2 separate regions of the Homo sapiens genome follow, and region 2 is linked to region 1. The links come from fine-mapping of genetic effects on gene expression. Tissue or cell type: spleen. Region 1 holds a variant in brackets; the other region holds the start of a gene. All regions are shown on one strand. Distances are between the middles of the regions.

Evidence for each region. PIP is the estimated chance that this variant, and not a neighbour inherited with it, causes the effect. A credible set is the group of variants that fine-mapping cannot tell apart.
Region 2: it holds the start of GPR142, and the variant in region 1 is the best candidate, but not a certain one, in a credible set for the expression of GPR142 in spleen (GTEx, PIP 0.65).

What each region holds. Positions count from the first base shown.
Region 1 is chr17:73,528,100-73,530,855 of GRCh38, reverse strand. All of the region lies in intron 1 of SDK2 (sidekick cell adhesion molecule 2), which reads left to right. Among named protein-coding and RNA genes, the nearest start is that of SDK2-AS1, 16 kb to the right of the region's middle. The variant C/A (reference allele first, on the strand shown) is at 1,686.
Region 2 is chr17:74,366,176-74,368,675 of GRCh38, reverse strand. GPR142 (G protein-coupled receptor 142) reads right to left here and starts at 1,170. Exons shown (of 4, transcript NM_001331076.1): 1 at 882-1,170. RefSeq lists an enhancer at 1-556.

The sequences.
Region 1 (2,756 bases):
GGGTTTGTAGCTAGATGCTCTACTGGGGCCACAAGGGGCATGGTTGTTCTCACTAATAGATGCTCAAAATGATTCCCTTCTGAAAATTAACATGGTGCCGTGACATTTGTTAAGGCCATCATGGGGAGAAGGTTGGAGAATGCCAGGGGTAATTGAGACTGTAAGACCAGGTGAAAGGGATGCATGTGGTAGTGCCATTTGGACATCATTGCTCCCACCCAACCAGCAGTACAAGCTACACCCCTGCGAGGGGCTTACAGCCCCTACCATTGTATATAGGGTCCTTGTATATAGGGTGTTCTGTGGATCCTAGGGAGGTGATATGGTTTGGCTCTGTGTCTCCACTGAAATCTCATCTCAAATTGTAATCCCCAGGTGTCGAGGGAGGGACTTTGTGGGAGGTGATTGGATCATGGGGACGGTTTCCCCCATGCTGTTCTCATGATAGTGAGGGAGTTCTCATGAGAGCTGATGGATGATTTTATAAGTGTTTGGTAGTTTCCCCTGCACTCTCTCTCTCTCCTGCTACCATGTAAGACGTGCCTTGCTTCCCCTTCGCCTTCTGCCATGATTGTAAGTTTCCCTCGGCCTCCCCAGCCATGCAGAACTGTGAGTCAATTAAACCTCTTCACTTTATAAATTACCCAGTCTCAGGCAGTATCTTTATAGCAGTGTGAAAATGGACTAATGCAGGAGGGGACTGTCATAAACAGTTGCCAGAGAGGAGACAAGAAGCTAGAGCAAAGCATAAAGAAGCTAGCTGTCCCATTCTTCAGGTATGGGTTCGACTGGAATGCAAGATGTGGAAGGGTAGTTTTGCCCCCTTCCTTCCACCTTGCCCATGTCCATAGAGAATTTCACTTAACCCCACTGGGCAGCAGGAATGGGTCCTGCATTAAGGACATCTCTCCCACTACCGTGTTAACAACTCTATGTGTTTCCTGTGGCTGCCATAACAAATACCACAAACTGGGTGGCTCAAGTAACAAAAATATATCATCTCAGAGTTTTGGGGCACAGAAATCCAAAGTAAAGGTGTCAGCCCAGCGGGTTCCTTCTGGAGGTGCTGAGGGAGGACCTGTTCCATGCCTGTCTCTAGCTTTTGGTGTTTGCCGGCAACCCTTGGTGCTCTTTGACTTGTGGATATATTGCTGCAATCTCTGCCTTTGTCTTCCCATGGTCATCTTCCCCGTGTGTCTCTGTGGCTTCACCTGGTCTTCTTGTAAGGGCACTAGTCATTGGATTCAAGGCTCATTCTGATCCAGTATGGCCTCATCTTAACAGGAAGAATTACACCTGCAAGGTCTCTATTTCCAAATTAAGGTCCCATTCTGAGGTTCCAAGTGGAAATGAATTTTGGGGAACGCTACTCCACCCAGTGCCCTGACCTAATTTGCCTATGGTTTATTAACAAGGCAGCCTTGTTAATAATCCTAGCCTGCCTTGTTTAATAATCATTCCACTCTTCATATTGACGGTGCTAGCTCCATTTCAGATGAGAAAATTGAGGCACAGAGGGCTAAGGTGGCCTTTCCAAAGTCTCCCAGCCTCCAGTGGTGGAGGCAGACCCGAGTGAAATCTCTGTTTTCCAGCCTGGTCCTCCCTCAGCTGTCCCCAACCTCGGTACTGACTGTAGGACTCCCCGGTTCCCACTCATGCATGCTTTTCGCTCATTACAGACGAAA[C/A]CACCTCCTCTCTTCCCAGAATCATCTTTCTTCTGGACAAGGAAATAGTTTCCCCATATGACAGAAAAGAAAGCTAAGCCCCTAAAGGAGGTATTTACAGAAGGCTCAGGTAGACAAAATGGTGTAAGAGGACTCAAGAAAGACAGAAGAGGGGGCAACAATGAGAAGACCTTGTGAGAGCCACCAGAAGGAGCTGCAGAAGCTGGGCAGAGCTCAGGGACCTCAAGGATGGCAGAGGTGCAGGGGCGAGGCCTGCTCCCCTGGCTCCTTGCACCTGTGTCGGTGCCATGGTCCAAAGGGTAATGGCTGTATTGATTGGTCCGTAAGTTATCTGTGCCTGGGGATGGCCAGGGGACGCTCCTCTCACCGGGAAATAAAAGCTTCGACCATCAGGGGATAAATGCAGTGGGAGCAGATGAGCCGTAGAGAGATTGATCTGCTGTACTGGATGGTGACCCTGCAGTGTCAAAGAGTCAACAGAGAGCAGGAGAGAGATGGAGGAGTGGAAGGCCTCAGCCCCTGGCTTAGGGGATCACAGTGGAGAACAGAGAGCAAGCAGCCCTCGCTGTTCACCTGGGGCTTAGTGAGGCAGTAGGTCGCCTTGGGATGAGAGCAGGAGCCAAGGACTTGACCGGCCCCAAGTGTGAATCCCTCCACTGCTCGCTCCCAAGTGACCTTGGGCAGATCCTCAGCCTCACTGCATCGCTGCTTCCCCATCTATTAGAGAAGTGGTAGTGACCTTGGAGGATTGTCATGTGGACTTGGTGCATCGCCTGGGACAACCTGGCACATTGCAAGCTCTTCATACGTGTTACTTCTTTCACTGCACCTGCACAGACTAGGAATGGGGCTGAGGAACCCAGGATGGGAAAAGAAGCCGGGGAGACTTTGGAGATGTACTCAGCAAAGACTGCCGGGCTCCCTACCTCTTCACTCTCCCCTGTCTCTCTGGGAATTTTGAAAGGTGTGCAGCTCCAGTTCCCCTATATTTGCTAACTGATGGCTCCACACCCCTCCTCTGGGGTCCAGGACTGGCTAGCACCTGAACGTTCCACCTGGATAACCAGCTGG
Region 2 (2,500 bases), 840 kb before region 1:
AGCCCACAAGCAGGTACCCGGGACATGGATGCCCCGTGGACGGTCTCGGGAGGAGAGCTCAGGCCCCCCTGGAATCACCTCCCATGGCCTGTCCTCTGGGAATGCAGCAGAAAATATGGCAGGAAATATAGGGAGCTTCCCAGCTCTGGGAGTTAGATCTCACATCAGAGCCTGGAACTCCCCATCCCAACCCCCCCTCGGATACTCACAGCGCAGGCCCTGCTGCCCCCTGGTGGCCACATCCTGACCCTGCAAGCCTGAAAGTCCCATGGTTTGGCTAGGCACCCTGGGTGGCACAGTGGGACTGGAGACGGAGCTGCCCGCTCAGGGCAGGTCCTCTGGTGGAGTGCTGGGACCCCAGCCCCAGAAAGTGCAAGTAGCACAGATGACGCCCCAGGCCACCACCTCCTTGCAGCAGGAGGCTAGGGGTGAGAGGAGGCTGACCCTCTCTTCAAGGAGCTGCCATGGGTGAGGGGCAAGGAGGGTCCCTGCCAACATTTACCGAGTGCCCACCCTGTCCCTACACTTTGTTTTTTAAATTTTATGTATAGATATAGAGAGAGTTTGGGGCCTCGCTGTGTTGCCGAGGCTGGTCTGGAACTCCAGGCTTCAAGTGGTCCTTCTGCCTTGGCCTCTCAAAGAGCTGGGATTACAGGTGTGAGTCACCATGCCAAGCCCACTTTGTTTCTTTGAGGGATGTACACTTGACTGGAAACCTTAAATATTCTTCAGACGGAACACAAGGGTTTCAACCAAGGCTGTCACACAGGCTACACAGAAAACTAGAGCTCCCTGGATTCAGAGCGAGGAGAGGGAGAGATGGAGGAGGGGGACTGAGTTTGCTACAATGATGCCCCATGCACGTCCTTCCAGCAACTTACCATCCCACCCCATAGAAGGCCTGTTCTGGGAGGCAGCTGGATTCACCTGGCGGAAACTGCTGGAGTCCTTGGATGGCCTTATTCGGAGGTCCCAGCTTCCCCCTGTGACCTGTGGAGACCTCAGCCACCTGGAATGGCTGAGACAAGAATGCTGGCTTTTCTGTGCATGGGACACCATTGATTTGTCTTCCTCAGTATATGCTTCTGTACCCAGGACAGCAGTGATGTCCTGCAGGGAAGTGGGGACCCACTGGATCTTTTGCTCCATGGGCAACATCATAATACTCATTGCTAACAACGCTGGGATCCATGGTTCAAGAGATGGAGCCTGGAGATGTCCAGCTCAGTGGCAGCAGCAGACAGGACAGGGCAACCACGTCATCAGCCAGCACACAGCCTATACAGAGGTGAGAGGCCCCTTCTTGGTGGTGGCGATTCTTTCCTACATGGTGTGGTGTCAGTGACCAGGGTAGGCTGCTAGCCCACGGTGGAAGGGATCCTATCCACTAAGGCAGTCACCTCTGAGCCAGCCTGGGCAAGGTGAAAGATGTTATGAAGACCCAGCCGCACACCTTGACTTTTTTTTTCTTTTCTTTTTGAGACAGAGTCTCGCTCTGTCACCCAGGCTGGAGTGCAATGGTGCTATCTCGGCTCACTGCAACCTCTGCCTCCTGGGTTCCAGTGATTCTCCTGCCTCAGCCTCCCAAGTAGCTGGGATTACAGGTGCCTGCCACCATGCCTGGCTAATTTTTGTATTTTTAGTAGAGACGGGGTTTCACCGTGTTAGCCAGGCTGGTCCTGAGCTCCTGGCCTCAGGTGATATGCCCACCTGGGTCTCCCAAAAATGCTGGGATCACAGGTGTGAGCCACCGCACCCGGCCACACCTTGACCTTTTTGGTCTCTGAAGTCTTCAGCCCTGATCAGTCCAGCCAGAGCCACCAGGCCTGAGCACCAGGGTCTCTCTCTCTCTTTTTTTTCCTTCTGCCTCCCTACCCCTCAAGACAGGGTCTCACTCTGTCACCCAGGCTGTGGTACAGTGGTGTGATCATAGCTCACTGCAGCCTCGAACTCCCAGGCTCAAGTGATCCTCCCATCTCAGCCTCCCAAATAGCTGGCATTACAGGCAAGCACCAACACGCCCAGCTAATTTTCGTATTTTTTGTAGAGACGGTGTTTCGCCATGTTGCCTAGGCTGGTCTCGAGCTCCTGGGCTCATGCAATCCACCTGCCTCGGCCTCCCAGAGTGCTGGGATTACAGATGTGAGCCACCACACCTGGCCAAGGATTCCTTCTTATTTAAGTTTTTGTTTGTTTGAGACAGAGTCTCACCCTGTTGCCCAGGCTGGAGTGCAGGGGTGCAATCTCAGCTCACTGCAACCTCTGCTTCCCGGGTTCAAGCGATTTTCCTGCCTCAGCCTCCCAAGTAGCTGGGATTACAGTCACCAGCCACCAAGCTTGGCTAATATTTGTAGTTTTAGTAGAGACGGGGTTTTACCATGTTGCCCGGGCTGGGCTTGAACTCCTGACCTCAAGTGATCCACCCGCCTCAGCCTCCCAAAGTGCTGGAATTAAAGGTGTGAGACATCATGCCCGGCCTCATATTTACCTTTATGTGCTC